Linked DNA regions of Homo sapiens: region 2 is linked to region 1. Evidence: fine-mapped expression QTL. Tissue or cell type: cerebellum. Region 1 holds a variant in brackets; the other region holds the start of a gene. All regions are shown on one strand. Distances are between the middles of the regions.

What was found. PIP is the estimated chance that this variant, and not a neighbour inherited with it, causes the effect.
Region 2: SIDT1 starts here. The variant in region 1 is fine-mapped to the expression of SIDT1 in cerebellum (GTEx, PIP 0.98).

Annotation. Positions count from the first base shown.
Region 1 is chr3:113,953,038-113,961,145 of GRCh38, reverse strand. It overlaps ZDHHC23 (zDHHC palmitoyltransferase 23), which reads right to left. Exons shown (of 5, transcript NM_001320466.2): 3 at 6,736-7,446; 4 at 4,640-4,807; 5 at 1-2,783. The coding sequence ends at 2,516. Among named protein-coding and RNA genes, the nearest start is that of ZDHHC23, 9.1 kb to the right of the region's middle. The variant C/T (reference allele first, on the strand shown) is at 4,006.
Region 2 is chr3:113,528,692-113,536,799 of GRCh38, reverse strand. SIDT1 (SID1 transmembrane family member 1) reads right to left here and starts at 4,245. Exons shown (of 25, transcript NM_017699.3): 1 at 3,557-4,245. The coding sequence starts at 3,778. RefSeq lists enhancers at 3,354-3,483, 3,954-4,283, 4,424-4,613, 4,634-4,853 and a silencer at 3,634-3,683.

The DNA of each region.
Region 1 (8,108 bases):
CTCCACTGCCGCCACCACCAAATGCTTCCCTGGGACTGATTCATTCACAGAGGCCTTGTCCTTTCAAAGATTCCACAATAAACTCATCTGGCCCCTGGAGAGAACCAAGGCCTATAATGAAACCCCTCAAATAGTTCCAGATCATAAAAGGCTCCAAAATCCTATAAACCAAAGATGTCACAGAGCCTACAGAACACTGCTCATGGATTAGCCCCTTGTTTGCTGCTCCTTTCGGTACAGACGCCTGGGAAGGCTTTTCCCACACAAGATCACTCATCTTTTGACAGGTTTAAGCATTCTGTCAACTGTCCATCATGGGTTCTCAAGGAACTTAAAACAAGTATCTTCGTGCCAATAAACCTGAATAATACACAGAGTCCCTTCCTATCCATGGGAAGGAAGCGGAGTTGGCTCATCCAAGTAACCCTATTAGAGGTAAGTTGTTAAAAAAAATTGTCATCATTCCTAATTCTCCCAAATTATTTTGGTCTCTTTGTACTACTTATCTTCATCACATCACATTACATTTAGATGTTGTGAACAATTTGGCAAGAAGCTAAAATTACTGACTAATGTTTCTATCAATTTGTATGATCAATGGCTAGATAATCAGAGTTGGCTCTACAGCTGACATTCAAAAGCACGACTACCAATTTCTGCCCACACAGGCTATCCTTGACATTATTACTGTCTCTCTTATGTAAAACCTGTATAGAAAGAAATTTGTTATATCAAATCCAACTTTAATTCTAGATGAATATTCAGCTCTGGGCCAGGGAGAAGGCATCACTGTACAAACCCCAGAGTCTGCTAACATCCCCAGGCACAGAGCCTATCATTCGTTAAACAAACCATCTCTGGGGAAAATGACAACAGCCTGAATAAGAATATGGTGACCATCTTAAGGACAGCTCCAATTAATGGCAACAGTAGGGACGGTGCTGGCTGCAGAGGGTGGAAGTGCAGGAAGTAGCAATATTTCCTCTCAACAAATATAAATCTCTTGCTTAAAGCAGCATGCACAGAATGACTGAAAACGCTGGCAATATTTTCCCTATATTAAGCTATAAGCCAAGGCAAATTTAAGGAGTCATGAATTATCTTTGGGATTGCACAACAGTACATGTTCAAAACTAACATTTCAAAAGGGTATTTTCCTCATCTGAAATTCCCTCATCTTAATTCTATAGTAGAACAACCCATTGTACATAAATATTTAATCTTTTATACATTTTCGGTTTTAAGATATGATTAAAGAAACAACTTGTTATTGTCGGAAGAGCCAGGGAAGAACAGTAATCCATTAATAGTGGAAACCACATATACCCTGTTTCTTCTCTCTTAGTGAGATACTGTTATTTAGGGAGGGGTAATTGAGAATTAATGTGCAAGTTAAGTGGGAAGATGTCACTCAACTCCTCAAAGTTCATACCAGAATAATGTGAATGCCAGAAGGCTGATTTTCACAATTTAGTGCTATAACTGACAGCATTTGAAATACATGAAGAAAATAATCGAGCCCGTGATGTTACTCAGCCTTCCTACCAGAAAAGAGAGTAAAGCATCCCCACAGGAGTGTCTGTTCTCCTCTTCCAGCCACAGTCACAAGTGTGCTAGCACCTTACCTGGTGAAACATGGGAAGAGGAAAAACACATGAATGCCTGTTGGAGTTATTTATAAGAAACCCAAGCAGAATTTATAAAATATAAATAGAAGAACTCATCACCTAAACTCATGGCCACACTACATTACACTAGCAATAATTATCTTTATAACTGTTGTCAACTGTCTTTTCAAGATGAGACAACTTAGCATCAATCCATCTGGTCATCTTCTCTGTTTGAGTAGTTCATGTCTAATAAGAAGGAGAAATTCTCATAACTGTACAACAAGGTATATGCTGAAAACTGATTACCCTAATAATATTGGCTTCAATATTCTAGACTATAAACGTTTTTCTTCCATCATAATATTTTCCTAATACTTTGTATTTCCATGGCTCTTGAGTTGTTTTTTAGTGCTTTCCACATCCATCTTCCCTCACGTGACCCTCATGACGGCTCTGTGAGGTAGCCAGGGCAGGCATCAGTACCCCACTTTGCAGATGACCCTGAGACTTGGGAAAGTGACTCAGCTAGGGGTCACATGGCTATTAAGAATCGAAAGAGGGACTAGAAACTATCCTAATCCAACACTCTTTCCTCCATACTAATGGATGGGAATTGCTTCTATCAATTTGTGCATTAGCAATCCACATCCTTCTCAAGTTCAGGCAACTGAGTCAATTAAAAAGGTGACTGGAAAGGAATGGCTCTACTTTTACTGCCTCAGTATAAAAGTCTCTTAAGTTGTGGCGTCAGAAAAATTAACTTCTTCCCACTCCAGTCTCTAAACCTGAGCATGGCCCTATAATGCCTTTAAGAAACTGGGGATAGAAATGGACACTGAAGTGTAAAATGGAAGGGAGACGGAAGGAGGAGCCATCATCCCTCAGAGAGCCACATAGAAGGCACTTCAGACAATGTCCTCGGCAGGGTGGTGGAATGCACGTGTGCCCAGGGTGGAGAACTGGTGCCAGTTCCGCAGGAAGCCCCTATTGTACTGGCCTGTGTCCACGATGAGCCCGCAGAGGAGCCGGCGCCCAGTCTTCTGTCGGAGGGCCTGCTGGACTTCCCGCTCAGTCACATTGTAGCTGATGTTGATCAGCTGGATCAGGAAGATGTAGGCCATGCCTGCTGTGATGATCACAGAGTACCACACGCAGGTGAAGGACAGAGCCGAGCTAGGAGAGGGAAAAAGGCTGTCAGGGCTGCCGTTTTTGTCAAATTCAGAAAACTGTCATCATTCTCACGTTTTACACATTTTTTTACTTATTACTAAAGACTTTGGCATCTTCCCCAACCCTCCGAACTGGAAGATACTCAGAATGCCAATAACCTGCTTAAGTAGGAGAATGTGTGTGTTTATTCTATAATTACTGGTGCCTATTTTCTAGTATATTACACTAGAATAGCAGGGACTGTTTTTTGCATTTTGTACCCTCCACACACCCAGCACGCTGCCTGACATAACAGCGTTCAACACCTGTTTGTTAAATAAACAAGTAATTCGTAAATTACATCTAACTCATGAGAAAACAAAGGCACCAAGGGACTGCTATAAATGTCTTCTAGGAAGCTGCAGGTGGATGCCGAGGAACAGTGCTAAAGTTACTAATCTCCATTCTTTCCAGTCCAATGCTGAGGAATGAAAAGACGATGGACGACTCCCAACCCCAGCAGCCCTGTGCTTACCTGGATGTAGGAACACCGAGACATTCCAAATTCACCCTCCTAAAGCCCAACACAATCACACAAGGTAGGGAAGCTCCTCTCAGGCTCACTAATGAGACAGGCTGCCAGTTAGCCTCTGCCATTTGATGATTTTCCAACATTCGCAAATTAAGAGTTAGTTAGAAATAAGTTCATTCAGAATCTTCATTTGTAAAAGCTGAAGGGACCTCAAAGACTATTAAATCCAAGGACCTAACCAAAAAGATGAGGTGCTGTGAATCGCCTGCACAGAGCAGGGTGAGAAGCAATGGCAGGACTGTATTCCTCGGTTCCCTCGCCTCCGCACCGAGAGTGCACAGACATGCTGTGCTTCAGGACGGGCCTCACCTGCAGCGTTAGCAGAGAATTTCATTCACATGCTGGAGATACTCTCCACACAGTGAGGAAGGAAACTTAATCTGAGGAAGACCAATCTATTCTAATAATGCCCACAGGTGTCTGGTTCTAGGATGACAATGGGGAGATCTGTCCACAGGCTAATAAAAACAAATGCCACAAAGGGATACTTTGTAAAGAAAGCAAGGATTGTTCTGAAAATGAAGAGTGAGAATAAAGAAAAGGGCCAAACCACAGATACCCCAGAGCACTTATGTCAGAGAGGATGATGAAGGGAAGGGAATAAAGAGCATGGGCAGAGGGGGGCCCCAGCATTCAGGGAGGGGGCGCTGAGGC[C/T]GAAGCGGAAGAATCCCAAATTTTGCCATGGCCTGGAAATCTTCACAATCTATAAAGGGGCCTAAGGAAATTTTGACCTACATATCACAGTAATCATCAGTGGTGATTAAAAAAAGAAAGAAAGTAGAACAGGAAAAACCAAGAGAGGTTAGAAAGAAAAGCAAGGTTATAGAGATGTCGAGCACATCTCAAAAGGGTCGGAAGCAGTAAATTAAGATTGGACTAAAAAACATCAGAAAGCAGCAGTAAAGTGAGAAGGTTTCTGATCGTTATGACAAAATAGGCACATATGTGCCCTGGGGCTGCTAGTTTTTGTTTATTGTTTCTGTTTCACTGTTGCGACTTTTGAGCCTATGAGTGGTCATTTGACTCTGGAAGTCCCTGATTAGGCCTGGTCCTGTTTGTAGAGAACTAGTTCTTCACTTTTTAAAGGTCAACAATCCTTTTAACAGCACCCTTGAAAAACACACATCACCAATGCACAATTTTGCTGGCAATTCCAGGGATACCCAGCATTTCCATAGCCTGGCCTATGTTTTGATTGAGAACTCCTAACCAAGTAGTAATAGTCCCTGTCAATGGCAACACCCATTACTTCCCAGGGGGCCTCCATACTGTGGTACCCACTGCTCACCTGTAATTTGCATAAACTCCAGGACAATAGAAAAGAGCTGTGAAGACACTTCTGTCTCTACAAATGGTGTCCAAGGTCAGTGTGATCCCATACACCGAGGTGAGCAAGAAGATCAAAAGGGCAAGTATAAATGCTTGATGATTTGATTCTCCAACGCAGCTATTTATCCTCAAAACAGCATAGAGAAATAAAAAAGCAAACACATTTTTAAGAGTTCTTGATATAACTTACATAATAAACATGAAAGCTTTATTTTTTTTGAGACGGAGTCTTGCTCTGTAGTTCAGGCTAAAGTGCAATGGCGCGATCTTGGCTCACTGCAACCTCTGCCTCCCGGGTCCCGGTTAAGCAATTCTCCTGCCTCAGCCTCTCAAGTAGCTGGGATTACAGGCACATGCCACCATGCCCAGCTAATTTGTGTATTTTGAGTAGAGATGGGGTTTCACCATGTTGGCCAGGCTGGTCTTGAACTCCTGACCTCATGATCCACCCACCTCAGCCTCCCAAAGTGTTGGGATTACAGGCATGAGCCACTGCGCCCAGCCAAGACAAGGTTTTAAATAGGGAAAATGTAAATTCCAGTTATTAAGAAGTTCTCTTATTTTTCAATTTTAGGGAATTAAAAACTTGCACCCTGAGGAATGCAGTCTTATATTCTCTACTCTTCGCAAAGTGGAATCATATCGTCAGTTTAAGGACAAGACTAAGTATAAAAAGCAGAACCTGGCTAACAAATCTTCCTAAATATCAATATTACCCAGCTATGGAGATCTAACATTGTCCTCACCATGTTAAGGAAAGGGAGATAAATAGAATTATGAAAACTTAAAAATGCTAAATCAGAAGTATTACATAGTATGGGAAAATTCATGTTAAATATATGAAGAGTAATATAAAGATCCAAAGAGGTTAGAAACATAGCGTAGGGGGAAGAACAACTTGATAACATGCAGGCTCTTTGGCAGGTAAAAACAGTTCTGTGTCATGGCCATTTGTGGGGCAGAATGTAGAGGGAGTGCCTTCTACCCACTGCATGCCAGGATGCTCCAGTGGGCACATATCTGCTGTTAGGTGAGCCTTCTGCAAACCAGCATTTGTAAATGGAACACACACGCACACACACACACACACACACACACACACACACGAATAAGTGAAGACACAGAAGTAGAACATCTAAAAATGAAAACACCTGTTTACTTCTAAAGACAAGGACCCAGAAAAGAGCTGCCCTGCACTTGAGCCATGCACTTGAGGCCCACGCCAATGCCTCTCAGCCTTTTCTGCACCCTCACCCTCTCCTGCATCCCCTTCTGAGGAGGAGGTACGCTACAGGACCAGAATCCTAGACACGAAAAGCATTAATTCATTGATCACGACTGCCTGAAGAGCAATAAACTGCAAACATGCTACTTACAGCATTCATATCTGAATTAATTATAGTCCCTTTAGTTTAGATGTATTTAGTGAAGCTGCAACATTATCTTTAAACATTGCACTTCATATTTTACGGAGCCTTATGTACCTTCGTTTGTTACTGGCCAACTGGCAGGTACAAAAGCCCATTTCTCTGCAAATAATCAAATAGAGAGTTTATCTGGTGGGACCTCGATTCAATAATGTTAAGTGGAAATCATCGGTAGCATCAAAAACGATTAAGTATGTATGGCAAGGGGACAAAAGAGTCACCTAAAAATAGGGGTACACTTTCTTGAGCTTTATGTTTAAAAAGGAATAGCACAGGGAAATATGCTTATACTGTTTCTGATCAATTCTTTTTTTAAAAAATCATTCAACTGTAGATATTTCTCTATTAGAAAGGAAAAGATAAATGAGGAGTCATTCAAAAGAAAATTGAGAAAAAAAAAACCCCACAAGTTTTCTGTTATTCTCCTTCAGGAAATGACTGAAGGAACTAAATTTGTGAAACTCGAAAAACTGATGACTAAGTGGGAACATCACAACAACCCACAAATATCTACAAGGTGTAAAGCTGGGAAGGAGAGAAATTTTGGGATAGCACAAGGGAAGATAAAATGTAACTAGAGTTTTACATGAATTTACACTTTCCAAGTCTCCAAATGTTTCCAACATACCAGACACAATGATGATCCATTCTCCTCACACAGATGCCACATATCCGGCAGTGCCATGCCCGGGCTGGTCGCACCAGCTGGCACTTGGCACACCAGTCCTCCTTCGCTTTGGTGGGGCTTCCAGCTGGCATCTTGGAAGAGCCCTTGGGGTCATCCTTTGTTGTGCGATTGTTGAGACTGCCCGACATGTCTGCCCCAGGGAACCCTTTGGTCTTCTCCTGCCCTTTTCTGCTCAGGCACTCCAGCTGGCTGCTGCTTAGAGATCTGTCACCGCTTGCTGGATTGCTGAGGTAGCCTGGATTCTTCTTGGCTCTGTGCAAGGCTAAGAGTATCAGAAATAACCCGCAGGTAAGAACCGCCAGCTGAACGGGACCCACACGCCCTTTGGGGACCACTTCCTGCAGGAACACATAGTACATGTAGCCCAGAGAGAACAGTCCAAGGCTCAGGAAAAACAGGGTCTGTTCTTTCCTTCTGTGAGTGAGGTAGTAGTACCACAGTGCCAGCACAGGAAGGGAGGTCAAAACCACCACCCCCAGGAGGAAATGCCAGGAAGCCACATGAAGGAAGACAGGCAGCAGGACAAGCGGAGGGATGATGCTGATGTTCACTTTTTTGGCTCCCCTAAGCCAAGGAATTCGGAGGCGATCAGAAATTGTATCCATGATTCTTTCACAAGTCTCTGGCTGTAAAGATTTACATGTAATCCATCTATTCAGAAAAAGCACAAAGAGGAGGGACTTCATGTGGGTTTGTTGAATTAAAAGCTACAGAACACTGAATGCCAAACAGTGGGATAAACGATAAAAGCTACCAAAGACCAAGCATTTTACTTCCTTACTACTAAATTAAGCTTTTCAGATTCACATGTCATTTTTTAAAATAGGAACAAGATGTTTAAAAACTTAAAGTCAAGATTATTTCTCCCCTAAACAAATACATAGGTACAGACACATGCTGCAAGTAATGTTTACATCTTATGACCTGTACGGTCATAAGAATCTCAAAACAAATCACAATCTAGTTATGAGGACAACATGGGAATTTAAGAACTATTAGGTAAGTGACAAAGCAGCAATAATCAATAAACTCTTGTGATCAAACATTATAAGGAGTGCTCAGACTAGCATCAATACTTCTGGGTGGAGTCTTCAGAGGGGTCTTTGTGGAAAAGGTGGGATCTGTGCTCAACCTTGATGTCCAGCTAGCATGTGTATGAATAGAGAGGGAGTAAGGAAGGCCTTCCAGTGGAAAGAAATGTGTGCAGCACATACCTGGCATGAGCCCAGGGAGTAGACTAGTCCCACAGGGACAGGGCTACATAGAGAAGAATGGAGATCAAACTAGTATGAGTCAAATCACTGAACTTGGTG
Region 2 (8,108 bases), 420 kb after region 1:
TTTTCATCATTCTTATTTGAAGCAGTCATTCCATTCTCTCAGTGATTTTTTTGAAGGCAACTTCATATTTACATTACCCTATGCCTGGAAGGCATATGAGACTTTTCCTGGTGCTGAGTGCAGCTAACTAGTATGACACAAGCTTGGCAAAATAGTTCTCTGGGACAGTTTGGTATGGGAGATGCAGTGGCTGACAGGAAAGATTAGGAGCAATGGCTCCCACAACAGCTTCCTGTCTTTAAGCCTAAACTTAGAATAGACTTTCTCCTCCAAGGCACAGGAAAAATAATGTCAAGCAACAATGGCTTGAAGAAAGAGGAAAACAAAGATTAAAGCTCAAAAACTAGCCATTTTTTTCCCTAAACCAAATTCTTTGTTGCACTGAAGAGGGGAGGTGGGCAATGACCCTGCAGGCTAGAAAGACTTACCTTATCAAGACTTTGTTCAGGTTAAAGGGAAACCAGTCATGTCCAAGCTTCTGCTCTAAAGATCGTAGGTCTGGGGTCATACATCTCTATTTAACAGAGCCTCTTAGTGAGTGTAGGATAAGCAATGATGGCAAAAATTGCACAACATGGGAGAGTAACAAAAATTTAGTGGGTGGGGGTCAGCATTTGAGGAGGTATGAGGGGATGGCCAAGAAGATAGTGACAAACCAGCGCCTGAAAGAGAGCGTCGCTATCTTGAAATCCCCCTGGTGGTAAATTGTCGGAACAGTATGGCCTAGGTTTCTGATTTAATCTATCACCTATCTTGTGCTGTGATGTCATTCCTCTATGTTATTCCAAACCTTCAGTAAAATTCTGCTACATCCAACAGCCTTGTGTACCTGCAAGAAGGGGCTGCTGATATCTTATGCAGGATAAGAAGAACTAAGAAGAGAGTAGGAACCGAAGGTAATGGTTTGGACAGACAGATCAAGAAAATGTCTTCTCTGGAGAAAGCAACAGGAATACTGGCTGGTAGGACAGGAGGTTAATTTCCCACAATAAGTGGCTTTTGAGGGCTCCACTACAGCATTTGCATATTAAAGATTGGTCCCAGAAGGCTGTAAGATTTGAGGACATTTGGCTTATATTGAGAATACTGGCACTAAAATAATTGAAATTCTTGTTATCTCCTGTTCCCATGGTTCCCAACTTTGTATTTCTCAGACTAGTAATATTTTAACAAAAATTCTAGGGACTGCTTGGGTCATCAACCTTTTACTGTGTCATTCAAAAATATTTTCAAAACTGTTTCATAAAATAAAGGACATGTTAACACACACAGACAAAATAGGGCATAATAGAACAATTTTTAAAATGTGTTTTTATAAAAACCAAATTTGTTTTATGAAAGAAATTTGTTTTTATGTTTTTATCTGAAATGATCTCACATTTTCCAAACTATTGAATTGAAAACAGTATACATTTCATTTTATTTAGCCTTAGCTAATAACCCTTTATTCACTTATTTGTTCATTTTTGGAAAACACTAAATGTTTTTTATAAGCCTCTCTTTTCTTTAAAAAAAAAAACATTTTGAAAAAACAGGGTATCACTCTGTCCCCAGTGGGAGTACAGTGGCAAGAGCTCAGCTCACTGCAGCCTCAAATTCCTGGGCTCAAGTGATCCTCCTGCCTCCGCCTCCTAAGTAGCTGGGACTACAGGCGCATGTGCCATCACACCCAGCTAATTTTTTAATTTTTTGTAGAGAGAGGGTCTCATTATGTTTTCCAGGCTGGTCTTGAACTCCTGGTCTCAAGCAATCCTCCCACTTTGTCCTCCAGAGTGCTGGGATTACAGGTGTGAGCCATCATGCCTGGCTTATAAACCTCTTATGTGCCATTCACTGTGCTAGGTACTGGAGGGCAGAGATGAACATGACTTTGCCCCTGCCCTCAATATCTCAAGGTTTACTAGGGAAGTCAACCAGGTGATCTCAAGTGCAAAACTCACACAGTACAAGGGGAAAATGTAAAGGCAACAATTCATAAGTAGATGCTCTATCTCTATGCAGAACTGCAAGAAATACCAAAGCCTGATGTCAGGATTTACTTAGCACATGTAATTTGAGTTTTCTTACCAATGATTTAGGGGGAAGCTGAGACTTACTCCAGAGATCATGGAGTTTTCAGACTTTTTTCTGCTCCCAGCCAATCACAGGACTAGGAACACACCTCACGTGCAACATGTCAACCAGTCGATGAGTTCTCCCACGCTAGATAGAAAGAGGCTGGGTATATGGCGTTTGGGAAACAAAAACTGCAGCCTCTCCCTTGTCTACCATGAAATGGCTCTGCATACAGCCACTCTGCTCACTACAGAACATATAACCTGAAGGTTACTGGAGGACAGAGCAGGGTGAGGGCTGTGCTGCCATGGTAACAGTGCCATAGGATTTGGTGCCACACTGGAGATGGGGCACTCAGGGCACTTTCTGGCTACACACAGCTGGAAGATGTCTAGGAGCAGTGTTAGGCACATTGGTCCCCCCTGCTCAATACAAACCACCCTCACTTTGGGAAGTGATGAGGTTTTCTAGTTCCGATCTGGAGTGAGAATCAGACGGAGGCATATCATGGTATCCCAATCATCTAGTTCTGGAATTTCCCTAGAGGGTAGGGGATGCTGGTATAGTAAGGGATACATAAACACATTTATATGGGAAGAAGATCCAGAGGTTGGTACACTGGGGAGTCTCTGTCTCTGTCTCTGTCTCTCTTTCTCTCTTTCTCTCTCTGTCTCCCTCTCTCTCCCCGCCCAGTGCTCCAGAGGTACCACACTAGAGGAAAGAAATGAACTATATGCATCTTCTTACGTTATATAATCGGAGTATATATGTCAAAGGGATAGTCACTGGAACATTTTTCCCTCCTTATCTTCCCTCAACTTTTGTCAAAAATAGGTCTAGAACTTTCACACAATTATCCATCCTTATTTAAAATCAAAACCTGGATTGATCAGCTGATGGCTGCAGTTCTCACGTCTTTGCCCAGGTCTTCTGGCGTCTCTGAAGCACAACGTGTGACAATGGCACAAAAACGCAGGAAGTGACTGTTGAATGCACAGAGGTTCTGCAGCTTCCGTCCATTTTCACACAATTTCCATTTTAGATTCTGAGCAGTTCTCCCTCCCCATGCGCTATGAAATAGAAGGGTCTGGCTGAATCAGCCACTTGAAATTAGGTTTCTTCCCTGCAGGGGATTAGGAACCGAGGTGCGGTTCTTCTTCGCACTCCACACCACACCCCGCAACCCTAGAAATCAGGACTTTCCTGGAGAAAGACCCAGCAGGGACCCAGGACCCGCAGACGGTGCGGGGAACTGGTGCCTCTGCAAAGCCCAGCAATGCCCTTGACCAGGCCAGGAGAGGCGCGAGGCGAAGCAGAGTTGTCCCCGAGGCGTGTTGAGGCAGCTAGGGCAGGGCAGCGATTGCTTCGGAGGAGAAAGGGAAAGAAAGTCCCCTGGTCCCCGAAGTCTCCCAAGGTCAATTCCCAGGGGACTCCAAAGCAGCGACGGGGCTCTGAGATCTGGCAAGTTCTAGGAGTCGAGCGAGGGGAGCGAGTGTCTTACCTGGTCGGGCTGGCTGGTGTAGTTGAAAGAGTAGATGTTCTCGGTGCTGAGGTTCACCACCCCGCTGTAGACATGATCGAAATCGGCGCCCCTGGCAGCGTCGAAGGGGTCGCGGCGCGGTGCCGGGGGCTGCCTGGGGGATTTCGCCGGGTGCCCGGGCGACGCCGCCAGCAGGAGCCAGGGCAGCGCGCAGAGCAGCGCGAGCCGCAGGCAGCCGCGCATGGTGGGCACCGCGCCCGGGCTCGAAAGCGGAGCCACCCTGGGGAGGGGGCGAGCGCAGAGAGGGTCCTTCCAAAGCCCGGTGCAGGGCCAGGCGTCCGCTTCAGAGCCGAGCGGGTGATGCCTGGCGAACCCAGCCGGCCAGGGCTGGCAGCGTGCTGACGAAGGGCCGATCAAATACTGATGCTGCCGCCTGGGGTCTCCACTGGAGGTCACGGGTGGAGAGTAGGGCGGACTGGAGAAGTGGAGATGTGGGGCTGCTGATTTTCCTCCGGCTTCTAAGTCCCCCGTTTCTCATCGCCGAGAATCCCCCCACTTACCCAGCCAGAATTTAGACCGATCTCTTCTCCCTCAACCTCAATAACAGCAATAATAAAAAGGCATTGGAGTCATTAAAAAGAAATACCCGCTAGTCTCGAAAAGTCAACCTGACGCCACATCGAGGAGGAAATTCGGTCTGTTTCAAATACGTGTGCACCCTGGCTGCAGGAGAAGAAATAGAAAGCAAAAGAGCCCGTCCCCCAAGAGGGTGCGCGAGTTCGCTTTCCCAGGCTGCTACCTGCAGAGAACTCTTGCCTGTCTGAACGATAATTACTCTCTATTCTCCCCTCTCTAATAGAACCTCTCCTCAGACACCTGTTTTATTTCTTTATTACCTCCTACTCTCCATGGAGAGTCTCACGTCATCACGTTCTCTCCCTCACCATATGTGTATGTATGTAAATATGTACAGTTAAAAAAAAAAAGATATGGTAAAGAGAACAATTTCCAGCACTGCCTGAAGTCTGGTCCCGGAAGTTGTCAAAAAACGACTCAGACTAACTAGATTTATGCAGAAGGCATTTCTTTCCACCCCAGCCTCTTACCTACTTTACCATTGCAATGACTTCTTCCAGATTCTGAGAGAAACCCCAGGATTGTTTTTTTAAAGGCAGAAACCACAGCCTATCGTAAAAAGGAAATACTTTTCTGATAAAAATTAGGGGATTAGATTTAAAGAGTTAAAGAGGCAGGTAAGGAGCAGGGTGAGAATGGGGCCATCAGAAGACCTTGCAGAACATTGAACAATCACAATTTACGTGTGGAAGAGAACTCACTGTTTTATTTCAGCTTCATTACTGTATACTATAAAAGAATGTAATTGTGTTCAACCTGAAGGACCATTTAAAAAGAAGTCATTAAGAAGGAAAAGATCTTTTTCAAAAATTTAAGATTACAGATTAAAATCCTAGTCCTTGCCATCTTTAAAGAGATAGATTTGTTTTTGTTTTTACCTTGTCTAATTCCTTTAATTTCTTAAAACATCAAGAATGAATGCAATACATTTGTTGTAAAGTTTTCTGTGAAATCAGAAAACAATGCTGATGGAAGATTAAGTTAGTAGACTCCTTATTAGGACAATTTTCAGTTTTAAAGTTTTGAATGTTCTTGGCCAGGTGCAGTGGCTCATGCCTGTAATCCCAGCACTTTGGGAGGCTGAAGTGGGAGGTGGGCTAGCTTGAGGCCATGTGTTCATGACAAGTCTGGGCAACATGATGAAACCCCATCTCTACAAAAAATACAAAAATAGCTGGGCGTGGTGGTGCATGCCTGTCGTCCTAGCTACTTGGGAGTTGAGTTGGGAGGACTGCTTGAGTCCGGGAGGTCGAGGCTGCAATGAGCCGTGAACACCCCACTGCACCCCAGCTTGGATGACAGAGCAGGACCCTATCTCAAAAGGAAGAAAGGAAGGAAGGAAGAAGGAAGGAAGAAAGGAAGGAAGGAAGGAAGGAAGGAAAGAAAGAAATTTCTTGAAAATATATGGGTATATGGGCAAAAATACTAATTCAAAGGAGAGTCTGGGGGTAAAACTTCAAATAGAACTCACTGTTTTTGAGGAGCATAACGAAATAATTTCATCCAGAATTTGAATGACTTTAAACTGTTGTATTCAAAATATCTGTGCCTCTTTTCAAAGTTCAACAACATTTCATAAACTTGAAATCTACGAAGGTCCTGGAGGTTAGCTGGTGTGACCAGTTAAAGGAGTCTCTAGGATTATGGAGTTCTATTATGGCGTTCTTTTTAAACACTATAAGAGATGAGGAACTGGTTCTTTCACAAGTCAACACCTTCTTTTGGGGGCAAGTGTCTCATTATTAGAAAGACATTTCATATTCTTAGTTGAAATCTGCCTGTCTTCTACTCACTTGTACTAGTTCTGCCCTCTGGAGTCATAGGAATAAACCTAATACTTCTTCCACATGACAGACCTGTGGGTATTTAAATGGTGCTATGACCCTTCCTTCAAGATTTTATCTCAACTTTACGCAACTAAATTGGAAGCAAATGGAACAGATCCTTCATCATAGCATGAAACCCAAAATATTTATTTTAAAGCCATTTGTATGGATTATCTATACCTAACAATTTGAGTTATATATTACAAGTCACTCTGTAATATTATCTAATCCTTATTCTAGCCAAAAGTCATTCAGTGACCTCAAGTAATTAACCTCTCAGGATCACAAGGTTGTTGTAAGGATAAAAGGGAGAATGATGTATTTGAAAGTACATTAAAAAGTTTAAAGTGTTGAATGAACAAATACTGTTATGGTGTGACTGCTAGTTCAATAGCTAAAAAATAAAATGTGGTCCATTAGGTAGGTGGTTTTTTTCTTTATTTTTAAAAGGAATTTTATTTTAAATTTTTGTGGGTACTTAGTAGGTGTATATATGTATGGAGTATATGAGATATTTTGATACAGGCATGCAATGCATAATAATCACATCATGGAAAACGAGATATCCATCACCTCAAGCATTTATCCATAATGTTACAAACAACCCAATTATACTCTTTTAGTGATTTTTAAATTTACAATTAAATTATTATTGACTATAGCCTGTTGTGCAATCAAATACTACACCTTATTCATTCCATTTTTTGGTATCCATTATCCATCCCCACCTTCCTCCCCCAGCTCTCCCACTACCCTTCCCAGCCTCTGGTAACCATCCTTCTACTCTCTTTCTCCATGAGTTCAATTGTTTTGATTTTAAAGGCAGTTTTTTTTTTTTAATATCTACAATGTCAGGATTCTACTGTGAGAGACTAAATATGCAAGTGGGCAATGGCCAGACCATAAATAGCAATACAACTAACTCTGACCCACAGTTTCTGCAGCAATCAGCTCAGGAAACAAAAACACTTTAGCAGCAACCAGTCCAAGAAATCAAACTACAACTGCTGCAGCAAATGGCCCAAAAGAATTAGGTCTTGCTCAATGAGTCAATTTCCCCAATTTTTGCCCCTGCTTCCAACTTAGGATCAATCAGAGAAAGTTAAATATGCTTCCCAAACCACAAAATGCCCTGCTCCTACTTAGCCTGCCTCCAGCTTCCAACAGCAAGATCCAGTCAGAGCATACCTGAAACCTTCCCCTTTTATAACTATGAAGTTTTCTCACTCCCCTTCCTGCCTTTGAGTCTCTACTAAGCAGAAGTGATGGTGGTCAACTCCCTTGCTAGAGCAAGCTCTGAATAATTAGCCTCTGTTTGTTTTCATTTGTGTGAGCTTCACTTGTTTCTGTAGTTTTCTTGAAGTTTCCACAGAGATACTGTCTGCACTGCATGTCACCATGGATCCCAGTTCTCTGCCAGGTGCAGTACCCACCAAGGCTTCTTGTGCCTCACTGCACACAGTTGAGTCTGCATTGACACATTGGGTCAGCACTGGTTCTGAACTCTGCTCTTTGATTTTGAGTTCTTTGGCTATTTAGTCTCACTTTGGTACCTAGGATTTGTTATCACTTCCCATTTGATTGGCATCTTTGGTGGAGTCAGGCTATTCCTTTTCATCTCTGTTTTCTCTCTTTTCTGCTTCTGTTTTGCATTGTGCAATCTGGAAGTGTTGTCATAGAGTAGAACACAGGCATAGGCCCTATAAGCCTTTAATTTGAGCTGTCCTCCCAGACCAATGTAGTTTTCATTTGACTGGCATTCATTTGGACAAACTTTGCTGTGGGTTACCAATAAAACTAGATAAGATTATCCTCTCATCTAGATTTTTGTTCTGAGAATTTGGTTTTGATCCAGAAAGAGCATTCTCTCTGGTGTTATACTTGCCTGGGGAGACACATTGTCAGGTGTGCATTTAGAGGCAACTCATCCTCAAGGTTGGGGGCTCAAGATACAAAGTACACAAGCTTTACTTTTAACTTTTGCCAGCTCTTATGGGACCATTTAAGTCAGATTTTTCCACTCCTACAGGAAAAACTCCTTTTTCCTATATATATATACTTATTCTAATTCTAATTCTAGTGCCCACCTCTCTAAATAGCATAATTTCACC